Linked DNA regions of Homo sapiens. The protein of the gene in region 1 purifies or fractionates together with the protein of each later gene. This does not show direct contact. Each region holds a gene or a part of one and is shown on either strand. Other genes may lie near its edges.

Evidence for each region. Proteins that work in one complex are often made in the same cells at the same time.
Region 2: the proteins of RNF111 (region 1) and PML purify together in Homo sapiens (affinity purification with western blotting; 2 studies listed by BioGRID, with this or other methods). This does not show direct contact.
Region 3: the proteins of RNF111 (region 1) and PES1 purify together in Homo sapiens (co-immunoprecipitation; one large-scale study listed by IntAct). This does not show direct contact.
Region 4: the proteins of RNF111 (region 1) and SMAD2 purify together in Homo sapiens (affinity purification with western blotting, with the first as the bait; 3 studies listed by BioGRID). This does not show direct contact.

The regions. Positions count from the first base shown.
Region 1 is NC_000015.10:58,990,663-58,994,162, reverse strand, and holds part of RNF111 (E3 ubiquitin-protein ligase Arkadia), read right to left. Parts: intron 3,248-3,500; exon of another isoform or gene 3,215-3,247; intron 1-3,214. UniProt on the Homo sapiens protein: E3 ubiquitin-protein ligase. Required for mesoderm patterning during embryonic development. Acts as an enhancer of the transcriptional responses of the SMAD2/SMAD3 effectors, which are activated downstream of BMP.
Region 2 is NC_000015.10:74,001,216-74,004,715, forward strand, and holds part of PML (protein PML), read left to right. Parts: intron 1-3,500.
Region 3 is NC_000022.11:30,579,018-30,581,910, reverse strand, and holds part of PES1 (pescadillo homolog), read left to right. Parts: intron 1-266; coding exon 267-383; intron 384-502; coding exon 503-577; intron 578-809; coding exon 810-899; intron 900-1,209; coding exon 1,210-1,340; intron 1,341-1,732; coding exon 1,733-1,858; intron 1,859-1,975; coding exon 1,976-2,160; intron 2,161-2,607; coding exon 2,608-2,774; intron 2,775-2,893. UniProt on the Homo sapiens protein: Component of the PeBoW complex, which is required for maturation of 28S and 5.8S ribosomal RNAs and formation of the 60S ribosome.
Region 4 is NC_000018.10:47,868,160-47,871,659, reverse strand, and holds part of SMAD2 (mothers against decapentaplegic homolog 2), read left to right. Parts: intron 1-1,095; coding exon 1,096-1,185; intron 1,186-2,223; coding exon 2,224-2,417; intron 2,418-3,202; coding exon 3,203-3,337; intron 3,338-3,500. UniProt on the Homo sapiens protein: Receptor-regulated SMAD (R-SMAD) that is an intracellular signal transducer and transcriptional modulator activated by TGF-beta (transforming growth factor) and activin type 1 receptor kinases.

The sequences.
Region 1 (3,500 bases):
GGGAGGGTGAGTCAGGAAAATCACTTGAAGCTGGAAGGTGGAGGTGACAATGAGCCAAGATGGGGCCACTGCACTCCAGCCTGGGCCACAGAGTGAGACTCCATTAAAAAAAAAAAAAAAAAAAAAAAATTTAAGTAACAACAAATTGGGATGTCAAAAGATAGTAAAATAAGTAATTTATTCGAGTGCCCTATAGTACATATGAATAAGGGAAATGACTACAACATTGATTCAGACTTGACACCTAGCCATATATAGAATTTCTTAAATTTTCTATTTGGTAGAAAAGGAAAAATATTTTTTAAGAATCCAATCACATACAAACTAAACTAAGATGCTAATCGTGTATGCCCTCAGGAAAACACAAAAATCTTCTCCATGTTAACACAATCCACACTGCCAAACTCTCCTTTCCACCAGCAAGCCATAAGCCCCTTCAGGCAGGTGTTAAGAGCCTGCCCTTTGTTTTAACTCAAGCACTGGCACAGTGCCTGAAATACAACACTCCTGTTTGTTGAATAAATACTGAACATTTACAAATAGAAACGAAATACTGTATTTTTATCAAAATGAAAAGAAGCGTGGAAGGGAACAGACACTTAAATATGGTACTTTCACAAATTTTGAGATGGAGTCTCACTCTGTTACTCAGGTTGGAGTGCAGTGGTGCAATCTCAGCTCACTGCAACCTCCACCTCCTGGGTTCAAGCAATTCTCCTGTCTCAGCCTCCCAAGCAGCTGGGATTACAGGCACCCACCACCACGCCCAGCTAATTTTTGTATTTACAGTTATATTTTTTTTATTTTTGTGTTTTTAGTAGAGACAAGGTTTCACCATGTTGGCCAGGCTGGTCTCGAACTCCTGATGTCAGGTGATCCACTCGCCTTGGCCTCCCAAAGTTCTGGGATTACAGGTGTGAGCCACTATACCTGGCCACTTTTACTAATTATTTTAAAACATTTTTATTTACAATTGAACATTTTCTTTTTTTTGAGATGGAATCTTGCTCTGTCACCCAGACTGAAGGGCAGTGGCGCAATCTTGGCTCACTGCAACCTCTGCCTCCTGGGTTCAAGTCATTCTCCTGCCTCAACCTCCCAAGTAGCTGGGATTACAAGCACCCGCCACCATGCCCGGCTACTTTTTGTATTTTTTAGTAGAGACAGGGTTTTGCCACGTTGGGCAGGCTGGTCTCAAACTCCTGACCTCAGGTGATCCGCCTGCCTCAGCCTCCCAAAGTGCTAGGATTACTACAGGTGTGCACCACCATGTCCAGCCTAAACATGAATGAACGTTTTCAAAAATATATTATTTTATTTTATTTCATTTACTTATTTATTTTGAGATAGGGTCTGGCTTTGTCACCGAGGCTGGAATGCAGTGGCACAATCTCGGCTCATTGCAACCTCTGCCTCCCGGGCTCAAGCCATCCTCTCACCTCAGCCTCCCGAGTAGCTGGGACTACAGGCATGTGCCATTATGCCTGTCTAATTTTTGTATTTTTTTGGTACAGCCAGAATTTCGTCACATTGCCCAGCCTAGTCTCAAACTCCTGGGCTCAAGCAATCCACCTTCCTCAGCCTCCCAAGGTGCTATGATTACAGGCATGAGCCACTGGGCCCAGCCAAAAAAATATATTTTAAAATATGAACAATTTTCAAACCTCACAAAAGCAGAGAACAATATTATTAATACCCATGTACCCATCACCCCAACCCAACAATTATCCAGATTGTGCCAGACCTGCTTCATCTATCTTATCTCCCTCCACCACATTTTTTGGTTTTTATCTGGTATCTGTTTAAAATAACAGACATTGCTGGGCACGGTGGCCCACGTCTGTAATCCCAGCACTTTGGGAGGCCGAGACGGGCGAATCACCTGAGATCACGAGTTCAAGACCAGCCTGGCTAACATGGTGAAAAACCGTTTCTACTAAAAATACAAAAAGTTAGCAGGCGTGGTGGCGCGCTCCTGTAATCCCAGCTACTCAGGAGACTGACGCAGAAGAATTGCTTGAACCCGGGAGGTGGAGGCTTCAGTGAGCTGAGATCACACCACTGCACTCCAGCTTGGGCAACGAGGGAAACTCCATCTCAAAATAAAATAAAATAAAATAAAATACCAGACATTTGCAAGTTTTCTCCCTCATTCCTCAGTCTCTATCACTAATAAAAAGTGGTCATTTTCTTACATAAACATAATGCCATTATCATCCCTAACAAAGTTACAATAACTCCTTGATATCATCTAATACCCATCCATATTCAGATTTCCCCCAATGTTTCAAAAATGACTTTCTACAATTGGTTTGAGTCAGGGTTTAAACAACACCAACATATTGTATTTGGTTACTACACATAAAATAATTTTAATCTGTCTACATCATCTGACAGCAAATATGAAAAGCTTAACAGACAAACCAAATAATTAATTTACATTTGTAGATTCTCTAGAATCAAACCTCACCTAATGCATTTGCCGCCCCTGCTATCTGTAGCAGTCTTCCTCCAAATCGTCACTATGGCTGATTTTTTCTAGTCATTGAAGTCACAGGTCAAATTACCACCTCTAAAAAGGCCCTCCCTAACCACTCAATCTACAGTAAAACCACTTCCATCCATGCCGTATCACATGGTCCTATTTTCCTCATGGCACTTACCACTACCTGAAACCATTCTGTTTATTATGTTCCCACACACAGAACAGAATGTCAGCTCCATGAAGGCAGAGTGCCTTCACTGAAGACCAGTGACTGTGCCTAGAACATGAGACATTCAATAAATGTATCTACGTAATAATGCAGTACCGCTCTTTAAAATGTAAGCTCAGCTAAGTATTTGGAGGCTTTTTTGTTGTTTTGTTTTTTTTCAAGATGGAGTCTTGCTCTGTCACCCAGGCTGGAGTGCAGATCTCAGCTCAGTGGAACCTCCACCTCCCGGGTTCAAGCAATTCTGCCTTACCCTCTTGAGCAGCCAGGATTACAGGCGCATGCCACCACCATGCCCAGCTAATTTTTGTATTTTTTTTTTAGTACAGACGGGGTTTCACCATGTTGGCCTGGCTGCTCTCGAACCCGACCTCATGATCTACCCGCCTCGGCTTCCCAAAGTGCTGGGATTACAGGTATGAGCAAGCGCACCCAGCCTCAGCTAAGTATTTGTCTTTAAATATTTGTAATTCACTCCTCATGTAATGATATAAATTGAGTACCTGTAGAAACCTGGGCCAGCTGTTACCAAGAATCTGTAGGATGTAGGAAAGAAACAAACAGAGGTATAAGACATTCAAATGTAATTGTGGACTTTTACTGAACAATAATTACAGGTTTCTGAAAGAAAAACAAATTATTCCAGATGATTTTTAAAATGTTACCAGGAGTAATAAAAAATTTCATTTTTAGTACCATCTGAAAGCTATTAAAGCTTCAGTAATTAATATCTACAATGGGACAACAATAGCAATAATATGTGGAACAACAATCATAGTTTTTTTGTTT
Region 2 (3,500 bases), about 15 Mb from region 1:
AATGTTTTCCTTCTTTCTGTTTGATCATTTTATTTTTGTCATTTTCTTCCTTCTAACTTTTGTCATTATTCATTTTCTAGCTTCTTGAACTTATAATTCATTTATTTGCAATCTTTATTGTTTAATAATAATAACTTTTTTTTTTTTGAGAATCTCCCTCTGTCACCCAGGCTGGAGTGCAGTGGTAGATCTTGGCTCACTGCAACCTGTGCCTCCTGGGTTCAAGTGATTCTCCTGCCTCAGCCTCCCCAGTAGCTGAGACTACAGGTGCCCACCACCATGCCTGGCTAATTTTTTTTATTTTTAGTAGAGACGGGGTTTCCCCATGTTGACCAGGCTGGTCTCGAACTCCTGGCCTCAAGTGATCCACCCGCCTCAGTCTCCCAAAGTTCTGGGATTACAGGCGTGAGCTACAATGCCCTGCCTAATAATAACTCTTTTAAGGCATAAGTTCTCTGTATATGGTTTTGGCTGTATGCCATAACTTTGATAACTTCATTAGTGTTCTCATAGTCAATCATTTCTCAAATTTCATTTCAGTCTTTTCTTAAAAAGGTTCTCTTGCTTAAGGTCAAGAGTTCGAGATCAGCCTGGGCAACATAGCAAGACCTCATCTTTACAAAAAATAAAAAAAATTAGCCAGGCATGGTCGGTGGTACATGCTTGTAGTCCCAGTTATTTGGGAGGTTGAGGCAGGAGGGTTGCTTGAACCTAAGAATTTGAGCCTGCAGTGAGCTGTGATGGTGCCACTTCACTCCAACCAGAGCATCAGAACCGGACCCTGACTCGAAAAAAAAAAAAAAGAAATTTTTTTCTCTTGAAAAGTTTTAGAGAATAGTGTTTTCTAAAATTTTCAAGTGGTTTTGATGTTTGGTTTCTTGTTCTGTCACCCAGGCTGGAATGTGATGGTGCGATTTCATACTTGTTAATTTCTGCACTATGGCCAGTTTATACAGTTTGTATGAGTTCTACATCTAAGACTATATTGAGATTTTCTTAGCGGCCTAGGATATTCCTTGGACTCACATATTCCTAGCAATAATCCTTAGAGTTGAAAAGTTGTATTTGTTGTACACACATATATATACATACACAAATATATGTATATAATATATATGTGTATATATGCATATATCTATATGTATATATCCATATATATGTAAGTTCTAGTGCTTGTGTGTGTGTGTGTATCTCCACGCTATTGAAACTTTCTACCTTTCTTTCTTTTCTTTTTTTTTTTTTTTTTTTGATGGAGTCTTGCTCTGTCATCCAGGTTGGAGTGCAGTGGCATGATCTCGGCTCACTGCAACCTCCTCCTCCCGGGTTCAAGTGTTTCTCCTGCCTCAGCCTCCTGAGTAGCTGGGATTACAGGCGTGTGCCACCATGCCCGGCTAAGTTTTTTTTTTTTTTTTGTATTTTTAGTAGAGAAGGGGTTTCATTATGTTGGCCAGGATGGTCTTGATCTCCTGACCTTGTGATCCACCCGCCTCAGCCTCCCAAAGTGCTGGGATTACAGGCGTGAGCCAACATGTCTGGCCGAAACTTTCTACCTTTCCTTCCATTCTGTTTCACCAGTTCTCTAAATGATAATTACAGAGTGGTAACTTCCCCATCAAAACATATATATAGGCCAGATGTGGTGGCTTCCACCTGTAATCCCAACACTTTGGGAGGCCAAGGCCGGTGGATATTTTGAGCCCAGGAGTTTGAGGCCAGCCTGGGCAATATGGTGAAACCCCGTCTCTACAAAAAAATACAAAATTAGCTGGACATGGTGGCACATGCCTCTCGTCCCAGCTATTCGGGAGGTGGAGGTATTCCTCAGAGAGGATCACCTGAGCCTGTCCGTTCAAGGATGCAGTGAGCCATGATCACGCCACTGCACTCCAGCCTGGGTGACACAATGAGACTCTGTCTTAAAAAAAGAAAAAAAGTGGGCCAGGCGCAGTGGCTCACGCTTGTAATCCCAGCACTTTGGGAGGCTGAGGCAGGCGGATCATGAGGTCAGGAGTTCAATACCAGCCTCACCAACATGGTGAAACCTCGTCTCTATTAAAAATACAAAAATTAGCCGGGCGTGGTGGCGGGCGCCTGTAATCCCAGCTACTCGGGAGGCTGAGGTAGGAGAATTGCTTGAAACTGGAAGGCGGAGGTTGCAGTGAGCTGAGATTGTGCCACTGCACTCCAGCCTGGGCAACAAGAGTGAAACTCCATCTCAGAAAAAAAAAGTGTATACACACACCAACACACACATACATGCACACTCTAGAACCTATCTCATCTATCACCACAAAGAGTAGAATATAACTATTCTTCCAGAGAAAATAAAACATTTAGCACACTTTTATAGTTTTTCTTCTTCCCTCTTCCTTCTCACTTTCAGATTTAGTTGAAATAATGTGAACTTTTAGTTCCAGATTACTACCAAATTGTTAATTTTTTTTTCTTTTGTAAACATCCTTTCTGAACAGGTATTAAGCTTCATGGTCATATTACAACGCACTTGTTAGCCATACCTTATACTTTAATTGGTTTCATTGCTCATGATAAGTTTTCCTATAGCTTTTCTTCTCCTTTCTTGAATTATTTAAGGTGATTAATTTTCCATTTGGCAGGAATACTCCATCAAGTAATTAAAAAAATTATTCCAGAGTTTACTTTCTGAGACCTTAAGTGTCTTTACTTGTATGTCCTTCTTTTGCTGTCACATGTGAGGGAAAGTTGAGCTAGGTGTAAAATTCTGAGGTCATAATCACAGTGCTTTCACCTCAGAATATATAAACCTTGCTTCATAAATTTCTAGTCTCTGGTGTTGTAGATGAGAAGTCCACTAATGGTCTATTTTTTCTCTGTGAGTAATCTGTTTTTGTTTGTTAAGGATCTTTATTTATTTTTATTTATTTTACTTTTTAGAGATGGGGTCTCACTCTGTCACCCAGGTTGGAATGCAGTGGTGCAATCAGAGTTCACTGCAGCCTCAAACTCCTGGGCTCAAGCAATCCTCCCACCTTGACCTCCCAAGTAGCCAGGACTACAGGCACCTGCCACCGTGCCTGGCTAATAAATATAGTTGGATGGTTTTCATTTGTTTATTTGTTTGTTTAGAGATAAGTTCTTGCTCTGTTGCCCAGGCTGGTGTGCAGTGGTGTGATCATAGCTCACTGTAACCTCGAACTCCTAGACTCAAGAGGTCTGCTAGCCTTAGTCTCTGAGTAGCTAGGACTATAGGTGCCTGCCACCATGCCTGGCTAATTTTTAAAATTTTATGTAGAGATAGGGTCTCACTATATTGCCCAGGCTGGTCTAAACTCCTGGCTTCAAGTGATCCTCCTGCCTTAGCCGCCCAAAGCACTGGGATTACAGGCTTGAGCCCATGCCCAGCCTGCTAAAGATCTTTATATAATTTTTTCTTTTTTCAATAATCTTCTATCGCCATTGTTGATCTGAAAAACTCAAGTCTTTCTTCAGCTCTTCATCTCAGGGAAATTGTATTCTGCTTT
Region 3 (2,893 bases), on another chromosome or scaffold:
GTCTGGCACTGACTTCCAGGATGCGTCTAACCCTTGGGACCCCTATCCAGAGCCTCACTTGTGGCTGGGAACACTTGTGGCCGGAACGCCCCTGGTGGGAAGATCCATGCCACCCCTTCCCTAGGGCAGCGCCTTAAGGGCAGAGCCTTCTTGAGGAGCTTGGGGTCTTTGGGTAGGTCAGACACCCTCCACTCTGTGGGTTGTCTGTCCCTCCTTTGCCCCCATCCCTGCACCCACACTGCTCATGCATCTCTTGTGTTCCCCAGCACCCGACAGACGTGGACTACAGGGTCATGGCCACCTTCACCGAGTTCTACACCACGCTGCTGGGCTTTGTCAACTTCCGCCTTTACCAGTTGCTCAACCTCCACTATCCCCCGAAGGTAGGACCCCAGCCCAGTGCCTTCTGCTCGCCGTGCAGGGGCCACAGCCCTTCTCTGTCCACACAGAGGCGAGGGGCTGTGGCTGTCCTCTGCCTCCTGACCTTCCCTTTGCCTACTAGCTCGAGGGTCAGGCCCAAGCAGAGGCAAAGGCCGGTGAGGGCACCTACGCGTTGGACTCCGAGAGTTGTATGGAGGTGAGAGGCTCCAGGAGCATCATCCGGCATCTCCCAAGGGAGTGGTCTCTGTCCCCAACACCTCTGGGGGTCTGGTTCAGAGTGGGGGTGGTTATGGCTAGGTGGGTGGTCTCAGCCTGCCCTTGGAACCCACACCTGCTGATGCCCAGGACTGTCACTGCTGCCCCTCCCCACCCTGGCCACATGCCCGCATGAGGTCCCCCACTGCAAGCAGCCCCCTTCTCTCCTGTAGAAACTGGCAGCCCTCAGTGCCAGCCTGGCCCGCGTGGTGGTGCCTGCCACAGAGGAGGAGGCCGAGGTGGATGAGTTTCCCACCGATGGGGTGAGCACTGCACTGCCTTCTGGCAGGAGGGCTGGGAGGGGTCGTGTGGGGGGTTTCCCAGCTTAGGGACATTTGCATCCTATAATTAGGTGTTATTTGATGGTCAAAGCAACTGAGCAGAAGAATGGGCTGAATTGTCATCAGAGTTTACATAGGAGGCAACAGAGCTCAGGAGTGGGGCCTTGGAGTTTCCTTTGAAGGCAGGATCCAGGATCTAGAAGGAAGCTGGAGTGGACGTTATCTCCAGCCCTGGCCCTCCAGTGGGGGTGGGCAGCCCTGGTGGTGCGAGGCCTGGCCCCTTTCTCAACAGGAGATGTCAGCGCAGGAGGAAGACCGCAGGAAGGAGCTGGAGGCGCAGGAGAAGCACAAGAAGCTTTTTGAGGGCCTGAAGTTCTTCCTGAACCGAGAGGTGCCCCGTGAGGCCCTGGCCTTCATCATCAGGTAGGGAGGCTCAAGGGCCCGCTGACAGCATTGGTTCGGCCATGCTCTGGTCTGGGTCCTGCCCTGGTGCCCATCGGTAACATTGGGATGGTGTCAGTTTCCACTTCTTATGAAACAGTGTGTGGAAAGTGCTCGGCACCGCACTGAGCACATAGGAAGTGCTCAGCAGAGGGCGGAACTGCCGTCATTTTATTACTAGCTTAGCACAGAAGGATGGGCAGTGGGCAGATCTCTGCTGAGCCAGGATTGAAGGATCCTGGGGTGAGGAGGGGGTAATTGTGTCCTAAGAGGGTGAGTTTATGGGCTGGGTGGCCAGCAGGTCCCAGGGAGCTGAGTCTCAGGACAGGCAGCTCATGTCTGTGTACCCGTGTGGGCTCTCCCTGTCCCTGTAGGAGTTTTGGTGGGGAAGTGTCCTGGGACAAATCTTTGTGCATTGGGGCCACCTATGACGTCACAGACTCCCGCATCACCCATCAGATTGTCGACCGGCCTGGGCAGCAGACCTCAGTCATTGGCAGGTAGGCCCTCAAGGGTCCTCGTCCGGATTTCTGGGTATCCTGTCTCAAAGGCCCTGCGATGCAGCAGGACCCTGAGTTGCCCTCTGTGACTCGTTTTTGCCTGCCACTCTGCGCCAGGTGCTACGTGCAGCCCCAGTGGGTGTTTGACTCAGTGAACGCCAGGCTCCTTCTCCCCGTGGCAGAGTACTTCTCTGGGGTGCAGCTGCCCCCACACCTTTCACCCTTTGTGACCGAGAAGGAAGGAGATTACGTTCCACCTGAGAAGCTGAAGCTGCTGGCTCTGCAGCGGGGAGAGGACCCAGGTGAGCGGGATGGGACTGGGCTGGCCTTGACCCCTGGGCCCACGCTGGCTGTTTCCCTTAGCTGCCAAGGTGGAAAGCTCCAGGGAACAGGCAGTAGGAGCAGAAAGCCCTTTGAAGTCACCTGTAGAATAAGGCTTAGGAGAAGGGACATCTACCTCCTGGGGTCAGGTGTTATTTGACGTTCAGGATGACTGAGCAGAAGAACATGCTGCATTGTCATCAGAGTTTACATTGGAGGCGACAGAGCTCAGGACTGGGGGTCTTGGAATTTCCTCTGATGGCAGCTGGGCTGTGGGGAGGTGCAAGAGAGGGCCACAATTGGGACATCCCTGAACTGCCCATGGCTAAAGACGGCAGGGTCAGAGAGGATGGGGCCTGGGCCTGTTGTCACCCTGCCAGAGAGACAGTAGATTCCCAGGGCATTCAGAGGACATTGGCTTTCTCTAGGAAACCTGAATGAGTCAGAAGAGGAGGAGGAAGAGGACGACAACAACGAAGGTGATGGTGATGAAGAGGGAGAAAATGAGGAGGAGGAGGAAGATGCAGAGGCTGGTTCAGAAAAGGAGGAAGAGGCCCGGCTGGCAGCCCTGGAAGAGCAGAGGATGGAGGGGAAGGTAGGGGGAGCTGCAATGCGGGGCTTGGCCTGGGAAGCAGCCCTGCTTGGTGCCTGCTCTGGCCTAGAAGGTCAGGAGCCAGAGGACTGTGGAGGTCGGGAGAACCTGCCCCCATAAGC
Region 4 (3,500 bases), on another chromosome or scaffold:
TAAAATACTTGAATGAGATGCTGGAAAATTTCAGAACAGGTTTTGTTTTGAACTGTCGGGTCACTGTAGCCCCCAAAGCAGGGCATGATGTGTTCCTGCAGCCTGATAGCTATGTGACAGCACCTGTAGTACTAAAGCCAAGGATGCCAGGTGGTTCTGTTGCCTGGCCACAGGAAGCCAGCGCTTCTCACCATTGCCCTTTGAACTGTTGATCCAGTTAAGCTCACTAACAATGTGTAAATATGAAATTTAATCAATTGCTTGATTCATTTTCAAAAGATGTTTTGAAATACTCCTTTATCCGCATTGAAGTTTTGATGATTTTGTAATATGTAAGAAATGGACTTTTCAGAAAAGTACAACTTAGTACTTGAGACATTGGCTGTCAAAGTTCCATTCCAAAACTTCCTTTTAAGCTCTCTTTCCCTTCTCTCACTGACCAGAAGTTACTATGAAATGAAATAAAGGTAGGGAAAAAGGGAGAATTATCTCTGAGCTGCCCATATTCTGGAGAGAAATGTGGGAGAAAATTTTTAAGGTGGTATACTAAATTAGAATGACTTCAAAGTCTATTTCTTTATTTATTCTAGAGATGAGAACAAAATAATTTTCAGTAAAACTTAAAAATATCATGACCAGATAACCTGAAAATCTTAACTGTGGATGCATGTCTATTTTTATTGGGATTTTTTTCTATATTAAAAATCAGTTGACATCTGTTTTTAGATAATTTTTTAAAAAACTGGATTATAAAATGAAGCACTTAGTAAAGCTGATGGCAGAGGTTTTAGATCTTTTGAATACAGGAAAGTGGTAAGGGCATTATAGGTATGATTCATTGAGCTAGAGGGCGTTGGTGTTCACATTTTAAAAACATAATCATGACTTATCTGGAGTCACATGTTCCATTTTATTGGCTTCCTTCATATAGAAAATATAGTAACCAGCACTACATGCCTGTGAAAAAGTGAAGCAATTGTATATTTTCTGGGTGAAGGAAGTATTCTGTACATTCTCCATGTTTTACATCATGGTATTTTGAATAACCATGCTTCCATGTTCACATCAATTTTTTGTTTTTCAATTTATGCACAGCACTTGCTCTGAAATTTGGGGACTGAGTACACCAAATACGATAGATCAGTGGGATACAACAGGCCTTTACAGCTTCTCTGAACAAACCAGGTGAATATTCTGCCCTCTGTCGAATCTTAGAGATCTTGTGGGAGGGGGGTATATTTTGAAAGACCTATATGGGGTTGCTTAGTATAATTTTGCCTAGGATGTTTCCTTAATGTAAAATAAGGCATAGCATTTAAAATATCTGCTTGCCAGTATAAAAAATATATTAAATGTTTCAGCTGATGTTTTAATCAATGCAATTCTAGTTTGAATCTTCTTTAAATTACTGTATCCCCTAAAGAATAATAATTTTGATAACTATATATTTATTTTAGCTTGAGATCAGATTATAATCTGTTGTTGGCCTAATTTTTAAGTAGATACATGATGAGTTTTGCTAAATTTCTTGTTATCAGAATCTCATCTTTATACTAATAAATACATACTTAATGAACCCCTTATATCACAATTAACAGTAGGTTAACTCATTTTTATGTTACTTTTTTTAATCACTTCATTTTCTTTTTTGCGTATATGGTATTTGTTCATTTCATCTCATCATATTCATCACCATCCACATTTATTTGTGAACTACATAAATATACCTCAGTTCTCAAAACAGTCACAACTGGGTAAAGAGTTGCAGTAGTCTGAGGAAGTTACTATCACATCATTGTTGGTATTTATCATTCTTCACACTAGTTCCTTTTCTGACTCTTCAGTCACCTCCAGAATTAATATCCTTAGAAGCATCTCTAAAATGAGTTTGATTTACTAAACATAGAAGTTGACAAAGTTTTTCAAGTATAACTGCATAAACTCTCTTTTTTAAAAAATCAGTTTTTCCCAAGTTGTTAGCCTTTCATTGGCATTTGAGTCATTTATGTGACATATTTATAAGAAACATCTGCTAGTGCTGCTGCATACTTTTATCAGATCCATTAAATAGTACATTTTTGTTCTTGATTCTCACTAAAACTAACTAAATGGCTGTCATTCTTTTCTTTATGCTTTTATTGTACTAATTTAGCCCATTTGACTGCACTTTTTTTTTTTTTTTTTTAAAGTTCCCTCCTTTCTTTTCCCCTTGCTTCCCAACAGGTCTCTTGATGGTCGTCTCCAGGTATCCCATCGAAAAGGATTGCCACATGTTATATATTGCCGATTATGGCGCTGGCCTGATCTTCACAGTCATCATGAACTCAAGGCAATTGAAAACTGCGAATATGCTTTTAATCTTAAAAAGGATGAAGTATGTGTAAACCCTTACCACTATCAGAGAGTTGAGACACCAGGTAGGAATATTGCAAGTTTTTTTCTTGGTTTTGAATTAAATGCCTGAACTTCAGTATATTTAAGTACTCTTGTGACCCAGGAAAATTTTAGTGTAAATTCTAATAAATTACCTTAAATTGTGCATATTATTTGGTGGTAATTAAAATTTTTTTATTTTTAAAAATTTTTAATGAGAAAACATATCTGTTTCTTGGAATAGCATATGATTTGGCATGAAAGTGCATATCCAGGAAATCCTGTAGATTGGCAGTCTGCTCAGCGCTATGCTGATGTGCTTCTACATGTCCCTGCTGCAGTAACATTTTCAAGCATTTTGCACTTGGAGTGCTTTTAGAAGTACTTTAATGACATCATTTGTATGTACACCGTTTAGTAAAGCTTGTAACAAGACTTTTCATTTAGTTAGCTGTCTACCTGAAACTATTAAAAAATATAGCAGTAGCTGCGTTTTTGGAAAATTTCCTATATCTGATTTTACAGATAAAGACAATGTTAAGTTTTCCAATGGGGATTTATGAACTTTTATGGTAATATAATATTACCAGGATCACATTGTTCCCAAAAGTTTGAGATAAATTAGAACTTGGAAATTTGGATAATAGACTACCTAAGTTAGAGCCATAATCAGATTTGTCATTTTCTCAGTAACTAGTATATATCGAGTAGGTGGACCCTAGCTTTAAAAATTAAGCTACAACTTCTCTTCTTGTTGAAAACTTTAAAAAAGGTTCCCCCACTCCCCTTTGCTCTTTGCCATTAACTTGGATTTCTTGAACTTTTTCAGTTTTGCCTCCAGTATTAGTGCCCCGACACACCGAGATCCTAACAGAACTTCCGCCTCTGGATGACTATACTCACTCCATTCCAGAAAACACTAACTTCCCAGCAGGAATTGAGCCACAGAGTAATTATATTCCAGGTATTTTTGCCTTCTGAATCTCCTAAAACTTGGATAGATACAAATTTTGTTCATAAGCATTCAAGTTTTAGTAAATTGTGGTTTCACTTTTTTAAAAATGCTTTTGAGTTTTTAATAGAAAAATTGGATTCGTTGGGTGATTATTTTGTGAAATGTATAAGCC